Regions from separate parts of the Homo sapiens genome. Here regions 2 and 3 are each linked to region 1. Evidence: fine-mapped expression QTL. A gene starts in region 1. Each other region holds a variant in brackets. All regions are shown on one strand. Distances are between the middles of the regions. Region 1 holds the start of SNX21 (sorting nexin family member 21). Region 2 has its middle 7.7 kb from the start of ZNF335. Region 3 overlaps DNTTIP1 (deoxynucleotidyltransferase terminal interacting protein 1).

What was found. PIP is the estimated chance that this variant, and not a neighbour inherited with it, causes the effect. A credible set is the group of variants that fine-mapping cannot tell apart.
Region 2: its variant is the best candidate, but not a certain one, in a credible set for the expression of SNX21 in whole blood (INTERVAL, PIP 0.86).
Region 3: its variant is the best candidate, but not a certain one, in a credible set for the expression of SNX21 in whole blood (INTERVAL, PIP 0.75).

Annotation. Positions count from the first base shown.
Region 1 is chr20:45,831,940-45,836,161 of GRCh38, reverse strand. SNX21 (sorting nexin family member 21) reads right to left here and starts at 2,363. Exons shown (of 4, transcript NM_033421.4): 1 at 2,222-2,363; 2 at 1,694-1,961; 3 at 1,046-1,203. The coding sequence starts at 2,242. It also overlaps a transcript of TNNC2 not described here. RefSeq lists silencers at 1,780-1,829, 1,870-1,989, 2,010-2,319.
Region 2 is chr20:45,977,835-45,982,056 of GRCh38, reverse strand. No RefSeq gene overlaps it. Among named protein-coding and RNA genes, the nearest start is that of ZNF335, 7.7 kb to the right of the region's middle. The variant C/T (reference allele first, on the strand shown) is at 1,689.
Region 3 is chr20:45,801,826-45,806,047 of GRCh38, reverse strand. DNTTIP1 (deoxynucleotidyltransferase terminal interacting protein 1) reads right to left here. Exons shown (of 13, transcript NM_052951.3): 7 at 3,991-4,049; 8 at 2,670-2,715; 9 at 844-902; 10 at 682-742. Among named protein-coding and RNA genes, the nearest start is that of UBE2C, 8.7 kb to the left of the region's middle. The variant C/G (reference allele first, on the strand shown) is at 1,699.

The sequences.
Region 1 (4,222 bases):
AGTAGTCACCCCATGGGTGTGGCCCTTGCTTACTAACAGCAACAGAAAAGGGTGGAGAGGCCCAGATGTGGGACTGGGCTCCAGGCCCCCTCCTGCTGAGTCAGAGGTGGAGAAGGGTGGTGAAGAGGAGGGGAGTGAGAGATGGAGAGCTGCCACTGACAGGAGTGGCCAGCTCAGCTGGCTTTCAGGCCTGGCCTGAAAAGGGACTGGAGCAGGAGTCGCTGTGGGCATTAAAGGAGCAGACCTCATTCTCCAAGTCAGTCTCTCAACAGCAAGGAAAACAGCAAGGGACTCCAAGGTCCTCCCCAACATTGCTCTTCATCCTAACCTCCACCAACCCTCTAAGTCTAGCCCTTAGGGACAAGGTCGGGTGCTTGAGAACTGATTGACCTGTGCGTTATAAGGACACAGCAGGCCCTAGATGACAAACATTTTCAACCCAAAGTTAAATAATGATGACATAGCTACCATTTCATTGACCACGTCATAATGCCAGGCACACTGCTAAGGGCTTTTTGTCCATTGTCTCATTTAACTCCTGCTGTAATCTTCTGCATTTTCCCCATTGCTATAATGAGGAAACGGAAGATGACCAAGGTTAAACAACTCACCCAGAGTCAAACAACTGGAAATAAGTGGGAGTCAAGATTGGTCTGGATCGAAAGCCTATTTCCTTAACTACCAGCCCATGCAACTTGGATCTCAAGTTTGACCCAGATAACATCTGTCTCTCTGTATCTCACATCTTGCTACAATTTGCAAAAACCTTGTGGGCTGGGTGGGGAAGTGCACACACCAGTTCTCTTAGTCTCAAAACCAGGTTAAGAGGAAGGTCCTTAATCCCCACTTCAGTCAGTCTCAAGGAAACTAAGTCTTGTGTGAGGATTTGCTCAAGTTACATCCCCTTTCTGACCTCAGTTTCCCCATTTGTAAACAAGGTAACCATTTATAACTACATAGACCCCTCAGGAAGTTGGGGTCTTCCCTACTTGCTCCTAGCCATACTTCTGGACTCACAGCCCAGGGGTTCTAGACCCTCACTCACCACGTACTTGGAGGGCGGGTCCTTGACAACGTTAGCGCTGGTCACTTCGAAGAGCAGCCGCTGGGGTGCCAAGGTGTTCCGGGACTTCTTCCAGAAATCCTGCAGCTGCCGCGCCAGGAGCTGACTGCCCCACTGCCCATCAGGTGGGGGGCTCCGTTCTGCAGACACATGACCAGTCATATCAATGGGCCTAGGGCCAGGGTCGACATCAACCACTGACGTGGCCTCACTCATCCTCCCAGTGTGAGGCAGGACTTACCCCCTTTTTACAGAAATGGAAACTGAGGGACAGAGAGGCACCGAGGAGCCAAACACCGTGCCTGGCAGACAGTAGGGGCTAAATTAATAGCTCCACCCTCAAAATATCGTTAATACATCATTTCCATTCGGATCCCAAGCCCTGTACATTTAATGCCTGCAGCAATTCTGAGATGAGAGTGAGTTCTCCCACTTGACACAAGGGAAAACTTGGCTCAGAGGGGGGTTAAGACTCTCTCAAGGTCACACAGCCAAGAGGTGGCCCAGGCGCTTTAAGAAGTGTGGGAGTTTCAGCTGGATCAACTTAGCGCCCTGGATGCTCTGGGAACGCGGCTGGGATGGAGGCCTAATCGAGCCCCAGGGTTCCCGCCTCCGTCCTCCTGCACTCGCCTGCGTCTTCTCCTGACGTCCCATCCCCGAGGGGCAGCTGGTCAGGGCCAGCCTCCTCGTCGTCCTCGTCCTCGTCGTCCTCGTCGTCCTCGGCGCTGGTGAAGCTGAGGGTGCCGCTGAGTCGGGAGGACAGGCCCTCGGCGTCGTCGTCCTCCAGCTCTGAGCTCTCCGGAAACTGCTCGGCCTCTGGACTGGCCGCCGCCTCCCCGGGGCCGTCGCCGGCCAAGGCGTGCCGCAGCCGGTGCAGGAGCCGGGAGGCCATGGCACCCTGGGGGGAGCGCGCGACGCTGTGTACCGGATCCCGGAGGAGGGGTACCCCAGCCCGGCGCAGGAGGAGGAGGGGCGGGGCCCGAACCGGAGAGGGAGGGGCGCGGTGAGGCCCCACCCCCTGGCAGTCCGAGGTCTTGCGAACCAGGGGACCCAGCCAGCATCGCTTTCCCCCCAACCCACTCAGCCTAGGACCGCGTTCCTCCCCGGAGGGGCTCAGGACCCTCCCGATGTCTCTTGCGCCGCCTCGTGCGCCTCTACCTCCTGCGTCCCACGGTGCATTCAGGGGCGCGCCGCGCCCCAGGGGTCCGGGTGCAGCCCCCCGCAGCCCATGGAGGTCGGCCGGGTTCTGCAGGGCTCCGCCGGGCTCAGGCCGCTCAGAGCGCCGCTCGGGCAGCTTCCTGCCGCCGCCCCGCCTCCTGCCCCGCCCGCTCGCCCGAGCCGCCCGAGAATCCCGGGCCCTTGGCTCCAGGAGGGACTTGGGAAGCCTGGGTCGGCCTGAGGGAGTCCCAGGCCTGCCGCAGAGTCATCCCAGTCCGGCCAGGCGCGTACCCTCCTTGAATCCTCCCACCCCACCCACGTCATCTCCAATCTGTCCCACTCATTTCCACCCAACGCTCTTTAACTTCACAAAGTAATTATGCAATAGTAGGGAGGCCATGTCTCCCGAGAGAAAACGAAGGGCCAGGAGAAGATGCGTGATTTGGGTTGGTTGGAATCTGACCTCGCTGAGCCTAGGTTTTCTCATATGTAAAACAGGAACAATACTGCTAAAACTAATTTTGCAGCTCTTGTAAGAACGCTCGTCCCGTGCCTGGCATAGAGCAAAGGCTGACGAAATGATCACTTACATAATGATTATTGTTTCTACAGTGTTCACAGGCTTGCACAATCTGATTTGAACCTCACACATGGGAAGTAGGCAAACAGGGAAACTGAGGACCAGAGAGGGTGAGTTACTTGGCTTAACCACACAGCTTGCCAGAGGTTTCTTTCTTTCTTTCTCTCTCTCTCTTTCTTTCTTTCTCTCTCTCTCTTTCTTTCTTTCTTTCTCTTTTGAGATGGAGTCTCACTCTGTCACCTAGGCTGGAGTGCAGTGGCACCATCTCTGCTTACTGCAACCTCCGCCTCCCTGGGCTCAGGTCATCCCTCCCACCTCAGCCTCCCCAGTAGCTAGGAATAGAGGCGTTCGCCACCACACCCAGCTAATTTTTGTATTTTTTGTAGAGATGGGATTTGGCCATGTTGCCCAGGCTGGTCTCGAATTCCTGGGCTCAAGTGATCCACCTGCCTCTGCCTCCCTCAGAGGTTTCTGAGTATGGGGCCTGGAGCCCAGGTCCCCTGCTGCATACTGCCCTTTTCCTGTGCAGCAGGCCTGATAATCTCAGTGGCTCCCCAGCTTTGTTTTATCTTTTATCCGCAGGGCAGCTGCAGGTCAAGAAAAAGTTATTGTGGCTTCCTGTCACAAAGCCTAGGTATCAGTTGTTAGGGCAGATTTTGATAGTTATACAATACAATAAATAAAATCAAAATCTCTCCAAAGTAGCTCCTACCCTTTCTGAGTGGCACAGGAGAGAAGGGTGGGGGAAAATGCCTTGGGATAAGCAGAAGGTATTTCAGCTCCCTGCCCTCCCATGTGAGCAGAAAGGCTGGGGTTCTTATTTTCTGAGGGTCCACTTTCTACATCCTGCTCTAGGCACTTTACTGTCACATCTCTCCCTCACAGCGTCCTGGGGAAGAGGCTGTAACTGGACATTAATGGTCCATTTTCAAGATGAAGAAACTGAGGCAAAGTGACTTCCCCAAGATCCACATCTGGGAAATAGAGGGGCTGGGATTTTAAGCCTAAGTTTGTGCAATTTTATTTATTTATTTATTTATTTTTAGAGAGGGAGACAGAGTCTTGCTCTGTCGCCCAGGCTGGAGTACAGTGATGCAATCTTGGCTCACTGTAACCTCTGCCTCCCAGGTTCAAGCAATTCTCCTGCCTCAGCCTCCTGAGTGGCTGGGACTACAGGCATGTGCCACCATGCGGCTAATTTTTGTATTTTTAGTAGAGGTGGGGTTTCACCATATTGGCCAGGCTGATCTGGAACACCTGGCCTCAAGTGATCCACCTGCCTCTACCTCCCAAAGTGCTGGGATTACAGGCGTGAGCCACTGTGCCTGGCCAGTTTGCACAATTTCAAACCTCGAATTACTCTTCATTTGGCTTATGGGCAAGATATTGGGACAAAAAAGGCATACTTCATTCATTAATTC
Region 2 (4,222 bases), 150 kb before region 1:
GGCCCAGGCTGGAGTGCAGTGGCACAATCTTGGCTCACTGCAACCTCTGTCTCCCCAGTTCAAGCAATTCTCCTGCCTCAGCCTCCCGAGTAGCTGGGATTACAGGCGTCCGCCATTATGCCCAGCTAATTTTTGTATTTTTAGTAGAGACGAGGTTTCGCCAGGTTGGCCAGGCTGGTCTTAAACTCTGACCTCAGGTGATCCACCCACCTTGGCCTCCCAAAGTGCTGGGGTTACAGGCATGAGCCACCGCACCCAGCCCATTCAGCCTATTTTCTAAATCCAAGTGTTGTGGCCCTAGGGCATTTCCCCACTACCCCATCCCCCTCCAATACTGAAAGAGAAAGATTTAGGACAAATAGAAGGAAATCTTAATTTACACCGTGGGAAGTCAACTTAAGGGACTCATTATCCCAAGTGGTGGTACAGTCTTAAGCTATAAATAGGTTTTTAAAAACAGGGTTAGCTAAACCCATAGACAGCAGTGACATGAAGAAAGCAGGTAGAGATGAACCCTCGGACCCACCTGCTGGCTGCCTACTCTCAACCCCGCTGCCCTTCCGGGGCATCTGGTGCAACATGAGGAGCACTGGACTGGGAGTCAGTAAGCCAGGGTTTGAATCCTACCTCTGCTGACGATCAAGCACATGACCTCAGACAGTCACTGCTCTGGGGCCTCAGGTTCCTCATCCGTAACATGGGAATGCAGAGAGCATCTAATATCTCTGGCTGTTGTGACTGTAGTTTAAAAATGCACATAGGGCCGGGCAAGGTAGCTCACATCTGTAATCCCAGCACTTTGGGAGGCTGAGGTGGGTGGATCACCTGAGGTCAGGAGACTAGCATGGCCAACACCGCAAAATCCCGTCTCTACTAAAAATACAAATTAGCCGGGCATGGTGGTGCGTGCCTGTAATCCCAGCTACTCGAAGGCTGAGGCAGGAGAATCGCCTGAGCCTGAGAGGCGGAGGCTGCAGTGAGCCGAGACTGCACCACTGCACTCCAGCCTGGGCGACAGAACGAGACTCCATCTTAAAAAAGAAAAAGACCAGCCTGGGCAACATGGTGAAACCCCACCTCTACCAAAAAAATATACAAAACTTTGCCAGGTGTGGTGGTGTGCACCTGTAGTCCCAGCTGCTCAGGAGGCTGAAGTAGGAGGATCACTTGAGCTTGGGAGGACTGGTTGCAGTGAGCCAGGGTCTGCCACTGCACCCCAGCCTGGGCAACAGAGCCAGATCCTGTCTCAAAATAAAAATAAAAATGCATACAAAACACTGAATGCATCCCCTGATACTTGGTAAGTACCCAGTAAACATTCACCCAGCCGGGGTAATATGGGGAAAACCCATCTCTACAAAAAATACAAAACAATTTAGCTGGGTGTAATGGCGCGTACCTGTAGTCCCAGCTGCCTGGGAGGCTGTGGTGGGAGGACTGTTTAAGCCTGGTAGGCAGTGGTTGCAGCGACCCATGTTTGCACCACTGCATTCCAGCCTGGGTAACAGAGTGAGACCCTGTCTCAAAGAAAAAACAAAAAAGCCAAAAACAAACAAACAAACAAACAAACAATCTGCTAGTGGCCGGGCGCAGTGGCTCGCTCCTGTAATCCTAGCACTTTGGGAGGCCGAGGTGGGCGGATCACGAGGTCAGGAGTTCGAGACCAGCCTGACCAACATGGTGAAACC[C/T]CGTCTCTACTAAAAATTCAAAAAAATTAGCTGGGCGTGGTGGCGCGTGCCTGTAATCCCAGCTACTTGGGAGGCTGAGGCAGGAGAATCACTTAAACCCGGGAGGCGGAGGTTGCAGTGAGCCGAGTTTACGCCACTGCACTCCAACCTGGGCGACAGAGCGATGCTCTGTCTCAAAAAAATAAATAAATTAATTAAAAACTGCTAGTGTGATTATTATCTACTGCAGGAGATCTGGCCTGGGCTCACAGCCCCTTCCATTACACCAGAAAATTTCTGTGATCTTGAGCAAGTCAAATCCCCTCTCTGGGCTTCAATTTCCTCATCTGTAAAATGGGAAAATAGTAACCACCAGGCCTGACTCAGGAGAAGACAAAATATCACCTAAGAGTCAAGCATTATGATGAGAAATGGTACAGCAATCTAAAAGTATGGAGTCTAGAGCCAGATTGCTTAGTTTTCTTTTTTTTAAATAAATGAAAAAATTTTTATTGAGTATTACTTTATACATGTAAATTAAAAGTGAATCTATATTAAGTTGACTATTCTACAATAAAAACCTATGCAATGGGAATAATCAAAGCTGTCTACACAATACTAATGTGGTCAATAAATTACCCAGATGTTTTTCCACAAATATTTGGATTACCTGAATTAGCTGATTTTTCCACAAAAGTTAAATTTGAGCTTTAATATGGTAGCAGCAGGATGCTGCTTAAGTTTAGAAGAAAAACATAAGAATAAAAACCCTGAATAGCATAACCAAATCTTCCAAGAAATAAGTTCACCAAAAAAGTAGCATACACCTATTTGGTATCCAGAGGAGGAAACAAAACAAAACACAGGCACTTAATCAACATCCACCAAGTGATCATCACTAACATTCTATTATTACCAGAGCAACTGTCAATACGTGAACCGTAGATTAGGACAGACTTACATATCTAAAAACAAACCAGTAATCAATAATATATACAGAAATACTAACTTGCAGTCACATTTAAATACCATCAACAGTTTGGTGTATCTGATATAGACTGAATTCATTTCATCACTGCTATAAATTCCTTAAAAGTGTTCTTTTCCTAATGTAACATTATCTTTAAAAAATGGTAAGATATTTCCCAATATGCATCAGTTCTTTCACTCACCCATTCAATAAATGTTGCAGCAAATTAAATAGAACCTATTAACTAGATCTAAAAACAATGGCTGAATAATTAACACAAAGAAGTACTTTTGAGTAAACTATTCAGATTAGACAGGCTAATGCTAACTAAGACTGCATTTTGTGCTACTGACATGCACTATATAGATCGTACACTACTAGATGGAAGGTTGGTCCACGTCCATTTATTTAAAGATTCTGTAACACCTATAATAGTATTTAATACAGCTCCCACACATAATATTCCTCTCACATAGACATAGTTATTTTTAGTGGGGATAAGGTATGACTTTAACATGCTATGAGATTCTAGCTAAGTAAAATAAAAACAATATGGGCTCAGGTTTTCTTAGGTAATATTAGTTCAAGTTTTTAAACTGGGAAACAACCAACTTCCATATATCCAGGAGAAACTTAGCATGGGGGGAGGTGCCTTAGTTGATGTGCCTGATAAGCAAACTGTTAGTCGTCTATTAGTATTATGTTTTCAGCTTAATGTAACAACAAAAGAAAGGTGTCACACTACTTCTCAGATAATATGGGAATTACAATTACAGATAATATGGGATTACAATTACAATCCCATGGGATATCCTTTATTTATGAAAGCATAGTTCCAATGCAAAAGTCAAGCTTTATGGTTACATATTAGGATAGGTTCAGACCCAATATGACCATGTTTAGCACTAACTTTAACATGTTAAAGTTCTGATTCCTGAATGTTTTTCTCACTTAATATATTATCTCCAATGACAAGCTGGTGTGTCTGGCTTCTTATGCTGAAAATATATGCCTGAATCCTGTAACAAGTTATTAACAAAATCATGAATAGTTATTAAATAAGTGCCAGCACTACATGGAACTTACTGGTCACCAACTCAGAACGATAAAACTACACACATATGCACACAAAAAAACCCCAAAGAAACATACCTATCACTGTACATATGAATACTGTCCAGGATATCAGATCAATTATCAAATCCAAGGTCTCTGCTGTTTTGTCTTACAGTGTTGAATATATGAATGCTTCTCTATTACACTGACTTGTATTATTTTCAAGAAATTATTAAGTGGATTCAAAATCTTACATTTTTATTTCTAATTATAAAATCCAGATTAATCCAGAAAACACAAACCACATGTAACTGAGGTAGGTTTTTCACCTTAAGGATACATTGCTTCTACCACAATTTAAAATTTTTAAAATTGAAGAAAAAAAAAAGACTACATTGCTCCCTATACCTGCCTCTGATACTTAATTTTCTACGTTTGAAACTACTTGAACAAGTGTGACAGTGCTCTACTATATTTAGTAAATCCCTTAGTACCTACAAATACACACCCAAAATCCCTTCCCCCCTTC
Region 3 (4,222 bases), 30 kb after region 1:
GAGGGCAGTGTGATCTCGGCTCACCACAACCTCCGCCTCCTGGGTTCAAGCGATTCTCCTGCCTCAGCCTCCTGAGTAGCTGGAATTATAGGCATGAGCCACCATGCCAGCTAATTTTGTATTTTTAGTAGAGACAGGGTTTCTCCATGTTGGTCAGGCTGGTCTCGAACTCCCAACTTCAGGTGATCCACCCGCCTTGGCCTCCCAAAGTGCTGGGATTACAGGTGTGAGCTCACGCACCTGGCCCAAACTCTAATTTACAGACAACCAAATATGGTAGTGGTTAAGAGCTCAGGCTTTGGTGAGGACAGACCTGGATTTGAATCCTGACTCACCATTTCTAGCTGAATAACTGTGGGCAAGTCACTCAGCCTTTCTCAACCTCTGATTGTTTCAAATTTGTGAAATAAGGATGGCAATACTTATTTTTTAAGATAATATAAGTGTGGGATTTAAAACTGTGTTTGGCACCCAGTAAGCATGCAAGCAAAGTAGCTGTTATTACTGAGGCACAGAGGTGTTGAGTAAATCATGAAAGGGAAAGGTGAATGGCAGAGGCACAACTAGAACCCAGATGTCCTGACTCCAAGATCAGTGTTTGTTCTAAGCTTCTCTGTGCTGAGTGGAGTTCCCAGTCTACTCCCAATGCAATGGCCTGCTTTCCTCCCAGCAGTCACCTACCTTAAAGAGGTGTGGGTGCTTGATGTAGATTCTTCCTCTGGTGCCCCCCATCCCCAGGGCTCTGAAAAGTAAAAGCCAAGTGGTCAAGATTCCAGAAAGTGTAGTCCTACTAGTGAACTCCTGAGCTGTTTCCTCAATCAGTGCCAAAGCTCTTAAACTTACTTGTTGGCTCGAGATCCCAACACAAAGGTGGTAGATTCATTCAGGCGAGCTGGGTCCCACTGTGCAAAAAATAGAGAAGCTCGTGAGGGTGAAGTTTAATCTGATGGGTAGGACAGAAACACTCCTCCCCCTACCCTTTTCTAACCCTTCCCCTTGTCTATTATTTAATCAACAGTTGACCCAAGACACTGAGTACTCACAATATGCTAGGCCCTGTCTGTGCTAGATACTGGGGATAAAGAGATGAATAAGATACAGTCTCTGTTTTCTAGGATGCCACCAACATATGTACAGATAATTACACCATTGTGCGATGAGGCAAGGACACAAGTGAGTGCAGGGTCTGAGGGCTGCCGAGGGGAGGGTCCAGCCAGGAAGGCTTCCTTAGAGAGGCATTTCCCAAGTTAATTCTGAAAGGGTGAGCACAAGTTGGGGTAAAGGGGGTCAGGAACAAGGGCATTCCAGACAGGGGGCAGCATGAGCAAAGACAGGTGAGAGGCAGCTTGGCCTGCTGGAGAAACTACTAGTAATTCTGTGCTGCTAACAGAGAGAGTACAAATTAGGGAGTGGCAGCTGATGGGGCTGGAGAGAGAAACACAGAGGAGTTGGAGGTCTTAGGAGGTTATGTTCAGGGGACTGCATTTTATTTCTTCTGTAGGCAATGGGGAATCGCTGAAGGCCTCTAAACAGGGAGTGAGAGTCAGATTTCCTTTAAAGATAGCTTAGTCTTCTAGCAATGTGGATAATGGATTTGAAGGGGCAAGACTACAGGCAGGGAGAGCAGTTTAGAGGCCGCTGTGATAAAGCAGTTGGAAAGCTGCTAAGGGCCTGAGCTAGGGCAGCAGTAAGGATGAA[C/G]AGAAGGAAATAGGAACTGCAATATATTTAAGAGGAAGAATTGTCCAGGACTCGACTGGGTGTAGGGAGGTAAGGAAGAGGAGGAGGAGGCAAAGATGATTAAGATAACGAATGTAAAGAAGGGCTGTGAGGAAAGATTCTAATTTCATGTTTGGATATGCTGAGTCTGAAATGCCTATGAAACTTCCAGCAGAGTGGTCAAGCAGATAGTAGGATAAACAAGTTTTAAAGTAGAAAGAGGCATGGGATGGACAAAGAGGTATGGGAGTTTTAGAACATGGTGGTCCCTGAAACCATAAGAGTATATGTTTTAGATTATCCAGAGAGTTACTTTAGATGGAGAAGTGGGCCAAGGAGAGAATTCTGGGGAACAACCATTTATATAAGTCACTGCTGAGGAAGAACTCAGGAGAGAGAGGGAGGCAACAGAGGCTAATGGTTGAGAGCACAGACTCTGGTGTCAGCGGGTCTTGGGTTTGAGACTCAGCTCGATCACTTACGAGTTATGTGACTTTGGGCAAGTCTTAAGTGCATTAAGTGTATAAGACAACTGAATAAAATAATTTATGCCCACAGGGAAGCTGGCAGAAAAGGAAACGCCTCATTTATAGAATGGTTCACAGAATTGATCTCATAAGTTTGTTATAAAGATTAAATGAGATGGTCTACACAAAAGATTTAGGACACTGCCCGTTACATACTAAGTATTGAATCAGTATTAGTGACCACTAACTCCTATAAGGAGAAGGCTTCAGCAAAGACTCAAGCCCTCTCTTTGTTTTGCCTCTAACTCCAATTCCTACACAGGATCCTCTCTGAGGCCAGTGTGGCTGGAGGTGGAGAGGGGCAGATGGCTCTGGAATGGTGTGCATGCACCCTTCGCCCCCTGCCCCTTTCCCTCATGGTGGGTCCTAGAGATAGTGGGACTATCTCCTGGGATCGTGATCTCTGCCATGCTCACATAATCATACCTTGGGGCCTTCCCGGCGAATTGGTTCACAGGATTTTGGTTTCCATCTGCTTGGAAGGAAAGAATAAAGGTGAATTCTCCAAGGTGAGACCTAGGACTAAATGCCAGCTTGCTGGTGGTGGTAGGAGTTCCTCACACACTCTCACTTTAGCCCTGGACATCCTCCTTCGTGGTGACACATAAGAGGAGGAACAAAGGGAAAAAAAGCACTGGACTAGAAGCCATTCTAGCACTAGCTCTGCTCTTACATAGTGGCATGAGCAACTCCAAGAACCTCTGAGTGGCAGTTTTCTCATCTGTCAAAAGAGACAAAAACAGCAACTGCCCTACCTATCTTGTGTTTGTGAGGAATAAAACTGCTTCGTGTAGGAGACACATCTAAGGTATGACAGTTAATACTAGCCCATCTACTAAGCCAGCTGTTCCAAACTAACCCCACGCCCCTGAACCAGACCAGTGTGGCTTTATTTGATTTAAATACTGGGCTCCCATGTAAAGTTTTGTTTGAAAAAGATTCTGCTGCTTCAGAATTTTTTTTAAAAAGTGGGGTTGGGGGTTGGTTGAGGGGGAAGGAAGGATGAACAGGCAGAACACAGAGGATTTTTAGGGCACTGAAAGCACTCAGTGTGATACTAGAATGGTGGATGCCTGTCACTATGCATTTGTCTAAGTTCATGTACAATACCAAGAGTGAACCCTCATGGAAACTATGCACTCTGAGGATCAAGACGAGTCAAAGTAGGCTCATCAAATGTAACAAATGTACCACTCTGGTGCCTGATGTCGATAATGGGGGAGGCTGTGCATGTGTAGGGTCAGGGAGTATACGGGATATGTCTGTACCTTCCTCTCAATTTTGCTGTGAACCTAAAACTGCTCTAAAAAAATTAAGTCTTAAAAAAATATATATTTGAAAATGACCGTCTTGGAGGCAATGTTAACGATATGACATTAGGCAAGTAATTCTCTGAGTCTGTTATCTGAAAAATTAATGATATCTTCTTTACAGGGTGGCTATAAAGATTAAAAGGTAAAGTATGTAACGTATTTAGACCAGTCATAAGCATCCAATATATACTAACAATGACAAACCTCTGGAGTTTAATCTTTCATCAAGCTGGGCCAAACCGTTCAGGGGGTAAAACAATTTCCTCCTCACTACCCTCCTTCCTCACCCCTCCAACCAGGATAACCCCCCTCCACGATGACTTAAGCTGATGGATCTGATTTTGACAGGCACAGAACCCTGGACTCTTTTCCTTCAGGGCCCCTCTCTCCGTCTGCTCCCCTATGCTCTCACCACACTGTTGGTCCCTACTCACACCATGCCGGCGGCTGCCCGGTCGCTTGACAGGATGTGTCCAGGAGGCCGTCCTTTCCTCTGCCACAAAAAACAGCTGTCAGAGGTCTGACCCTGTGGTTACTCCCCATACCCCATTGGCAGGTCCAGGGTCACTTGGCAGAGATGGTTTTCCAAAGAGATCAAATGATGTTTGACAGGGACAGGGAGAAAAACTGCCTCTCATGTCTAGGAAGGCTCAAAAGGGCTTTGAG